2 separate regions of the Homo sapiens genome follow, and region 2 is linked to region 1. Evidence: fine-mapped expression QTL. Tissue or cell type: whole blood. Region 1 holds a variant in brackets; the other region holds the start of a gene. All regions are shown on one strand. Distances are from middle to middle.

What was found. PIP is the estimated chance that this variant, and not a neighbour inherited with it, causes the effect.
Region 2: PPHLN1 starts here. The variant in region 1 is fine-mapped to the expression of PPHLN1 in whole blood (INTERVAL, PIP above 0.99).

Annotation. Positions count from the first base shown.
Region 1 is chr12:42,462,633-42,467,960 of GRCh38, reverse strand. PRICKLE1 (prickle planar cell polarity protein 1) reads left to right here. Exons shown (of 8, transcript NM_153026.3): 6 at 1,581-1,767; 7 at 2,703-3,566. Among named protein-coding and RNA genes, the nearest start is that of PRICKLE1, 120 kb to the left of the region's middle. RefSeq lists an enhancer at 1,997-3,196. The variant G/A (reference allele first, on the strand shown) is at 2,175.
Region 2 is chr12:42,324,188-42,329,348 of GRCh38, reverse strand. PPHLN1 (periphilin 1) reads right to left here and starts at 3,182. Exons shown (of 10, transcript NM_201439.2): 1 at 3,120-3,182. It overlaps ZCRB1 (zinc finger CCHC-type and RNA binding motif containing 1), which reads left to right and starts at 3,255. Exons shown (of 8, transcript NM_033114.4): 1 at 3,255-3,425. RefSeq lists an enhancer at 3,510-3,559.

The DNA of each region.
Region 1 (5,328 bases):
GATTTTCCCAGTGTTTTAACAGATGCTCCTTTTCTTATCCAAGATCAATCCAGGGTGCTTCATTGCATTTACTCGTTGTATCTTCTTAGTCTCCTTCAATCTATGACAATAAACTTTGTTTTTATTTTTATACATTCATTTACTTTATACATTTTTTTCAACAATGTTCTATTTGAACATATTTTTGTTTTTGTTTTGTTTTGATTTATTTTTTTGGGATGGAGTTGCTCTCTGTTGCCCAGGCTGGAGTGCCGTGGTGCAATCTTGGCTCACTGCAACCTCCGCCCCGCGTGTTCAAGTGATTCTTGCACCTCAGCCCCCCGAGTAGCTGGGATTGCAGGTGCCCACCACCACGCCCAGCTAATTTTTTTTTTTGTATTTTTAGTAGAGGCGGGCTTCACCATGTTGGCCAGGCTGGTCTCGAATTCCTGACCCCAAGAGATTCACCTCCCTCAGCCTCCCAAAATGCTGGGAATACCAGGGTGAGCCACCATGCTCCGCTGAACATATTTTGGAAACCAAAAATATAAAAAAAATGAAAGAACCTGCCGGGCTCGGTGGCTCACGCCTGTAATCCCAGCACTTTGGGAGGCCGAGATGGGCAGATCACGAGGTCAAGAGACAGAGACCATCCTGGCAAACATGGTGAAACCCCGTCTCTACTGAAAATACAAAAATTAGCTGGGCATGGTGGCATGCACCTTTAGTCCCAGCTACTCAGGAGGCTGAGGCAGGAGAATTGCTTGAACCCCAGGAGGCGGAGGTTGCAGTGAGCCGAGGTCACGCCATTGCACTCCAGCGTGGTGACAGAGCGAGACTCTGTCTCAAAAAAATAAAAAATAAAAATAAAAATAAAAAAAGAACCAGACTAGACCCCATGGTGAGACCCCGTCTCTGTCCCAAAATGTTTTTCAAATTAGCTGGGCATGGTGGTTGTGCCCTTGTGGTCCCAGCTACTCAGAAGGCAGAGGTGGGAGGATCGCTCAAGCCCAGGAGTTTGAGGCTGCAGTGAGCTATGATTGTGCCACTGTGCTCCAGCCTGGGCTACAAGTGAGACCCTGTCTCAAAAAAATAAAGAGTCCTTAATCTAGAGATGGCCACCAAGTCAAATAAAGCATTATCAACACAAATGCTGTTCACTCAATTCCAGCATCTGTGTAGCTATAACTGTGTTGAGTCCACAGACATTTTTATGAGTTTTCTTTCTACTAAAACACCAAATTATTTCACTAAATTATTTCCGTGTTAATGTGTTCTTTGCCAGATTATGCCAAGAAAATGTTATTGGGGAGCAAAAATATGACCAAATGAATTACCTCCGGTGTAGAATTCTGTTTTTTTAAAGTCAAAGCAAGCATTTATTATTTAGTTTGTTTTCTCAGCACTGTCAATTTATGCTCTAGTTTGTAGCTAAATCAAGTGTTAGATTTAAGCTTGTGACTCTAAGAAACAAGGTTAGCTATCTGATTTTTTTAAGAGCCAGTGTCTGTCCATTGCCCGGAAAACATGCAGTTACTTGGCCTTTAAAATAGTTCCTAATGATTTTCTTTCATTCTCTGGTTTCACATTTCTTTTTGAAGATAATTTTTGCTGATGAGTGCACAGAAGCTGAGGGTCGCCATTGGCACATGAAACACTTCTGCTGCCTTGAGTGTGAAACGGTCCTGGGAGGACAGAGGTATATCATGAAGGACGGCCGCCCCTTCTGCTGTGGCTGTTTTGAGTCTCTCTATGCGGAGTACTGTGAAACCTGTGGGGAACATATTGGTAAGTCCACAGCCAGCCCGTCTGCCCTGTCACCTAGCCATTAGTCTGTCTTGGATTATCCAGTCTTATTTTTTCTTTTTCTGTTTTTTAAAGTTGAGATATAATTTACATACAATGAAATGTACAGATCTTAAATGTTCCAGCTGATGAGCTTTGACAAATGAACAGAGAGTTGATTCTTGTTACTTGCAGTAGTTGTGTTCTGTGACGTTACTGCAAACACTGGATTAGTGAACACTGAACCATTGCTCATGGGGGAATACAGGGTTAGGTTCCTGTGAGCCTCTGGTCACAGCAGTTTCATCAACCCATCAATACATAACCTTGTTTCACGTGTGTTTTTGCTTAAAGCCACTGCCTTATTGAATGTACATTGTTGATGCATTAATATTGAACTCACAGCCAGT[G/A]GTACCGTACTCAAGATTAGGAGCTTACGTAATACATGTCTTTTCTCTGTAAGGCACATCACAGCCTTCTTGCCCTTAGCAACATGACAGCATTTCAGCATTATCAGCATTACACTTGGGGGCCATTTTAAACAGTAAACTCACCAACAAAGAGCACAAAAATGCAGAAAACGCGGCAGTAGATAGACCAGAAATAGGACACTTGTCTACAGTATGAGAGCTGAAACAAAAAGCTGAGCATCTCCTGGATCAGTGCATGTTGGTTCAGTTCGTATTTTTACCACTCTGCACATCTGCGAATGACCATGAAACTGTTGCGAATATTAGTTTGGGAGTTGTGAATAAATTTTTATGAGTAGGCACACTCACAAATACAGAATCCACAAAGAATGAGGATTAATTATATCTGTGTCACCCACACAGCTCCCCCATACCCATAATCTTTATTTATTTTCTTCGTTTCTTCCTTATACCTTGTTTCAGGCATTAAACCATAACCTGTTATTTATTCTATCCTTTTCAAAACAGGTGTGGACCATGCACAGATGACCTATGACGGGCAGCACTGGCACGCCACGGAAGCCTGCTTTTCTTGTGCCCAGTGTAAAGCCTCTTTGTTGGGATGTCCCTTCCTTCCCAAACAGGGTCAGATTTACTGCTCAAAAACGTGCAGTCTTGGTGAAGACGTCCATGCCTCTGATTCTTCCGACTCTGCATTTCAGTCAGCTCGATCAAGAGACTCCCGAAGAAGTGTCCGAATGGGCAAGAGCAGCCGGTCAGCAGATCAGTGTAGACAGTCTCTCCTCTTATCGCCTGCTCTGAACTACAAGTTTCCTGGCCTCTCAGGCAATGCTGATGACACCCTTTCTCGAAAATTGGATGATCTGAGTCTCTCCAGACAAGGAACAAGTTTTGCCAGTGAAGAATTTTGGAAAGGCAGAGTAGAGCAGGAAACTCCAGAAGACCCTGAAGAATGGGCTGATCATGAAGATTATATGACGCAGCTCCTCCTCAAGTTTGGTGATAAAAGCCTCTTTCAGCCACAGCCCAATGAGATGGATATTCGAGCCAGTGAGCACTGGATATCTGATAACATGGTTAAAAGTAAGACCGAGTTAAAGCAAAATAACCAGAGCCTTGCAAGTAAAAAATACCAGTCTGATATGTACTGGGCACAGTCACAAGATGGACTGGGCGATTCTGCTTATGGCAGCCACCCAGGCCCTGCAAGCAGTAGAAGGCTTCAGGAATTGGAACTGGACCATGGGGCTTCAGGGTATAATCATGATGAAACACAGTGGTATGAAGATTCCCTGGAGTGTCTGTCAGACCTGAAACCAGAGCAAAGTGTTCGGGATTCGATGGATTCTTTGGCATTGTCCAATATCACAGGTACGTAATCTAGGGATTATGGGGTATTTGAAAAAAGGAGCTACTAAAAAGTGTATTCAAAAAATTGCAATTCAAGCCAGGCGCAGTGGCTCATGCCTATAATTCCAGCACTATGGGAGGCTGAGGTGGGCAGATCATTTGAGGTCAGGAGTTCGAGACCAGCCCAGGCAACATGGCGAAACCGCGGCTCTACTAAAAATACAAAAATTAGCTGGGCATGGGCCTGTGATCCCAGCTACTCGGGAGGCTGAGGCAAGAGAATTGCTTGAACCCAGGAGGCAGAGGTTGTAGTGAGCCAAGATTGCGCCACTGCACTCCAGCCTGGGCAACAGAGCAAGACTCCATCTCAAAAAAAAAAAAAATTGCAATTCAGCATGAGTAGGAGTTGTGTGTTATTCAAAACCATGGATCAAGGGAAGGAAGGAACCTCACTTAAATACCAAACACTAGCAAAACAAACACATGTGTGAGGTGAGTGCATGTGCATAAAATATATTTACAGTGCAGTCTTTAGGGATAGGTTTTATTACCCTGTTTTGAAGAGAAGGAAATTGATTGGAGGAAGGAGTGTACAACTGGATTGTGTCTGAAAGATATTGTACGCTTGAATTATTCTGTATGTATTCTAAGATACCAAAATTGGCCCACACACTTTACAAGCTCTTTTTTTTTTTGAGGTGGAGTTTCGCCCTTGTCGCCCAGGATGGAGTGCAATGGCGCAGTCTCACCTCACTGCAACCTCCATCTCCCGGGTTCAAGTGATTCTTCTGCCTCTGCCTCCCCAGTAGCTGGGATTACAGGTGCATACCACCATACCTGGCTAATTTTTGTATTTTTAGTAGAGATGGGGTTTCGCCATATTGGCCAGGCTGGTCTCGAACTCCTGACCTCAGGTGATCCACCCGCCTCAGCCTCCCAAAGTGCTGGGATTATAGGCATGAGCCACCACGCCTGGCCACAAGCTCATTTTTTTTTTTAAACATCTTCCTGAATTTCCCTGTGACAGTAGCTCAAAAACAGCTGAATACTTTTTATTTAGATTCTAAAATATTACTGTAATGTTTTCTTTTTTTTCCTAGTTTTTTGTTTTGTTTTGAGATGGAGTTTCACTCTTGTCACCCAGGTTGGGGTGCAATGACGCGATATCAGCTCACTATAACCTCTGCCTCTCAGGTTCCTGAGTTTAAGCGATTCTCCTGCCTCAGCCTCATGAGTAGCTGGGATTATAGGCGCCTGCCACCACGCCCAGCTAATTTTTGTGAGACAGGCTGGTCTCAAACTCCTGACCTCAGGTGATCCACCTGCCTTGGCCTCCCAAAGTGCTGGGATTACAGGTGTGAGCCACTGCCCCTGGCCTACTTTAATGTTTTCAAAGCACAGTCATACCAGTTATCCACATTTTATCTTTAAAATGACCCTGAGCTATATAGAGTGGATGATATGATTGCATTTCACAAATGAGGAAACTTGAATTACCAAAAGGCTAAATGCCAAACATTACATAGGTTCTAAAGGCAAGATTAGGCCTAGAACCTAGGACATTATGCAAATTATTTGCAACAAGTCTTTGGATTATAGAAATGTTGCTGTTGCATGGCTAGTTTTATAGTCAAACTACTGACATCCAGCCCTTTGATGAAGGTAATGCTTCTGTAATGTAGACAGGAAAGGCTTAGTAGCTGCTTCCTGCCAGGAATAACTTGTGCCAGACACTGCAGTGACAAGGAAGGGTACGGCAAAGCTACCCCCCCGGCTTCTGTGG
Region 2 (5,161 bases), 140 kb after region 1:
CGGATCACGAAGTCAGGAGATCGAGACCATACTGGCTAACACGGTGAAACCCCATCTCTACTAAAAATACAAAAACAAAATTAGCCGGGGGCGGTGGTGGGCGCCTGTAGTCCCAGCTACTCGGAAGGCTGAGGCAGGAGAATGGCATGAACCCGGGAGGGGGAGCTTGCAGTGAGCCAAGATCGCGCCACTGCACTCCAGCCTGGGTGACAGAGTGAGACTCCGTCACACACACACACAAAAAAAAAAAAAAATTGAAATTCCAGACAACTAAACATAAATTTTAGAACATAATTAGTTAAGGTCATTGAAAAAAAAAAATTAACTGATGCTGGGGCTGGGTGCGGTGGCTCATGCCCGTAATCCCACCATTTTGGGAGGCTGAGCCTGGCGGATCATTTGAGGTTGAGAGTTCAAGATCAGTCTGGCCAACATAGTAATACCCCGTCTCCACTTAAAAAATATACAAAAATTAACCAGGCATGGTGGGACATGCCTGTAATTCCAGCTACTCAGGAAGTTGAGGCAGGAGAATCCCTTGAACCTGGGAGATGGAGGTTGCAGTGAGCCATGATCGTGCCACTGCACTCCAGCCTGGGCAACAGAGCAAGACACCGTCTCAAAAAATAAAAAAATAAAAAGTACTGCATTCTCTACTAGTTTCACAAGTCACTTGACTTTCCAACGCTTTAAGGATACTTCTTTTATAAGCCCGAATGTACTGCACTAAACTTAGTAGGAGATCCCTGATTGTCCATTATAATTGATCAATTAACTGAAATTACACAAGTAAACAAAAATGCCAGATGTCTGCCTACATATAATATTTATAAATCTGAATTTTATTTCATATATGGATGGAAGTTAAGGCCTTAACCGGTCAGCCTCCTTCCAGTGTTTTACCCTCCATTTTACCCTAAAAAAGGATAATCAACTGTTAACGCATATTCATAATGTGAAGTTTCCAGGATCAAGAATCCAAGAGGTTTTTTATTAACCATAATAAATCCAAACTTCTATCTTCCATATGCCTCCTTCTATTATATCTAACCTTCTATTCTCTCCAAAAGCATATAATTATGCCTGTTTCCTTACTGTGCCACAAACAGACTAACACATACTACCACGGAGCTGTTTATTTTCCAAACGGGATATCTTTTTCCATTCTCTCATTCAACATCCAACGGTCCATCAAGGCCCAACTCAAAACCTATTATTCTCCACAAAGCCCATTATATAAACCCTACAAGACTTAAAACAGATTCCAAACTAGTGACTGATAGGCCATATGAGACTTGTGTTTGACCCACTTTTTTTTTTTTAATAAAATTCTATTCCACTGACAACATTTAAAAACTGGGAGAGGATGCTTTTTAAAAAATGGTATTTCCAACTTTTTTTGAAAAAATTAGATGTTCTGGCAAAACTGGGATCATATTCTCACATAGCCACAATCAGCTGTAGCTGAGTGGCAGGTGACCCCTTCTAAGGGTGAAGTATTCATTAACGTTAACTGCCTGATCTCTGCAGCATACCTTCAGCACCTGCAATCATTCAAGAAATAACTGACTGTCTTATGTGCCAAGAACTGTATTAGCTACTGGAGTTACAAAGATAAACGAGACAAACACAGTCCCTCACCGACAGTCTCGCTTAGTAGGGATGGCAAAGAAGCAATTAAGATACATGTGATAAATGCCGTGAGGGAAGTGCAGGACAGCTAAGAGTACATAGCAAAAATACCTAACTCTATGGAAGTTAGGGTATACCCCTCAAGTAAAGTGACAGCTAAACTCAGATCTTTAATAGAAGTTATCCAGAAAAAGATAGGAGGAAACAGGGAGCTCAAATGTCCCAGAGAGAGAAAAGAGCCTTTGTGAAGATACTGAGGGAAGAAAGTATTCTGAGGAATTGAAATCCGTTCAACATGGCTACAGCCATGCCCAACCTTTAAATGCAGGGTCAGAGAAAGGGCTCAACTGAAATGGCTGGCAGGAAAATCTACGTGTTATCAATAGTTAAGGTTAGGAGATGAAGGAGAATTTCACTAAAGAAGTTGAATATGTAAAATAGTTTAAGCAGGAAATAGAGGTTTCAGAAAGCACAGATGGGGTGTTGAGGGGTTAAATGGGGAAGAAACGAAGAAGCAGTGATAGCCTAAGTCGAAAGAAAGCACAAAGCAGCATGGAAATGAGACTATAGCACAGAAGACCACAGAAGCTTACATCTTGGGCGGTAACCAAGGATAACAGAGATGTAAAGCATGGTAAGTTTGGCTGGCCACAAGTATGCCTAGAGAATTAGTGCCAGCGGTCTCCTGTCGGCCACGGAGGCATTCAGGCCTCTCAAAATTCAGCTGCGCCCTGGATGGATTGTACTTCCGTCTCTATAGAAGACATCGGCTTCACTCTGGATTGATTGTGCAGGCTCCAGGAGAGGCTGTGGGTTCCAGGCTGCTGGAACGCAGGCTCCCAGGGAGTGGTTAGAGGCCTGGTCTGTATGTGCTGGTAGGCAGAAGTATAAATTACCTTGCATTACGTTCTGATTTTTCTGTAGGAATGGTGGGCATGTTATGGCCTCTTAGAGAAAAAGCAGTGCGTAGCCATTATAGATTTACAGGAAGAGAAAAGGTGCCAAGAAGATCAACACTTGTCCATACCCATACTAAAGATGAGTCATTCTGTGAATCCAACTCTCCCCAAGTTGACCTCGTCTCCCCAACTAGACTGAGATCTTCACCAGAAAACAAAACAAAACAAAACATAAAAGGTCTGTTTATTTTGTAGTTCCCAAAGTGCCTAATAGCTGGGTACCGTGAACACCTTCAGTAAAATTACCGACTTCCTGACTCCTCTCGGGTCACTGAAGTTACCTAGCTCAGTCGTCTTCTTGCATATTAAGGCGCTACAGAGAGGCGAACCCCTATCTTAGACTCAATACTTCCCTTTATTCCAAACTCCACTGCGTCTCTCCACCCTCAACCGCATGGGCAGAATTGTCACACAATTCAAAGGCAGGAGAATCCAGGACCCGACACAGAAAACTCCCGCCCACTCCCCCCCGTTTAGCAGCCCGCACACGCTCTGCATCCATCTCTGGGAAAGGTAAAAAGCGCTCACCGACTCTGGCCCTCCGGGAGACCCCGTAAATGCAGCCGTCCGCTCGCCGCCGTTATCCCAGGTAGGTACTTCCGGCGCGCGCAATGACGTTAGCGAAGCGCTCGCCTCTGGGCCCGCCTTCGGGGCCCGGATCTCAAACAGTCGGGAAGAAGCACCGTGGCTGCTATTATCTGCTCTCCGCGCCTGACCCCTCCCAGGACTCGTGATGCCAAGGCCGCTGCGAGCGGCTACGAAGAGTCGGGGTTGAGCCCCAGCTGAGCCGAGGGCTCGCACTCTTCTGGTCTCCCAGGCCCAACCCACCTGAAGGTAAACGCCTCCTCAGCTGCGGCCTTCTCTCCTGCGGGGCCCCCTCCCCAGACTCGGCTGCCAAAACGCTCTGCCCCTCTCTCCCGCCACCCTTTTTATTCCAGGACCTTAACCTCTGCCTGCCTTCGCGGCTCTCAGCAGAACGTGTAACGCATAGTTTCAAATGAGAAACTTAAAAAGCGACGTATCTATGTTGAGTTCCTGAAGTTTTCTAAATAATTCCCCCATAACACCAAACATGAGGCAGTTTTCTCATTCCTTCACGAATTGGCATGCCATAGAGTCAGTATTTTTCCATTTGTGATGGTTGATCTTCCCATCTCAAATACACACCGCACGCTCTTTTTAAATCAGAAATTTGAATTTGGTTGAGCCTGATATTTTCACGGTAATTTGCTGACTTTGTAAGATAAGATGTGAAAATTACTGATTACATTTGTAAACTTTATATACATATACACACATACCTACAGGTCTGTCTCTTCGAGGCACCAAGCCTATTTATATAATGTATCATTTCATAATTTGGCAATAAGCAAAATTAGCGTTTCGAAAGAAGTTTATATTGTCGATACATAAAGCTTAAATTTACTCCTTAACATCATACTAAAAGGGGAAAAGAAAATTTTCCTCTTAACACACCACTCCAGAGAAAAAAAATATTAAGACAAGCAAAAAAGGTACCCAGCCATAGTACAGGCATGCACAGCATAACAACTTTTTGATTAACAACAAACCACATATACCACAGTGGTCTCCTAAGAGTGTAATACATTGTACCATATTTTTAGTGTACGTTTTCTGTGTTTAGCTATGTAAATATTTACCATTGTGTTTCAACTGTCTACATTATTCACTACATTAACATGCTGTACAGGTTGTAGCCTAGGAGCAATAGGCTAGACCATCTAGGTTTGTCTCAGTACACCCTGTGATGTCTGCACTGTGAAATCACGTAACACTCAGAACATACCTCCTTCATTAAGCATAGCATGACTGTGTATTAGCAAAAATCAGTGGCTAAGGTTCTGTCTGAGTCCCCATGCTCTTTCTGACCTGGGTGAGCAAGGTGCAGGTAATGTACATATACAGTACATATTCAATAGAGCATTTTTTTTGCTCATGGTCTGAGTGGAAGTTAGGAGTAGCCTCAGGGTTTTTCCTTCATCTGTTCAAAACCCGTCTCCCTACCCATACAATCTGGCACTGAAAGTGTTGGTATAAAGAATACTTGAAAGAAGAAGAACCAAAAAAGAATTTTTTTTAAGTGGTGACTGGGAAAAAGGAATTCCTTAATTCAGCCTGCTGGAGTCATTGTTCCTAACTTCCTAAAATGTAAGGAAGGTGTACACATCTGGCATAATTAAATCGGTGATTGTTAATACTTTATTGGTTTTTGTTTTTTGTTTTTTTCCAAATAATACCCAGACTGGTCTGATGTATTGGTTTTATTTGGAATTAATAATACTTGGTTTAGGCCAGGTGTGGTGATTCATGCCTGTAATCCCAGCACTTTGGGAGGCTGAGGCAGGTGGATCATTTGAGGTCAGGAGTTCAAGACCAGCCTGACCAACATGGTGAAACACTGTCTCTACTAAAAATACAAAATTAGCCAGGCATGGTAGTGGATGCCTATAATCCCAGCTACTCGGGAGGCTGAGGCAGGATAATTGCTTGAACCTGGGAAGCAGAGGTTGCAGTGAGCCGAGATCACGCCATTGCACCCCAGCCTGGGC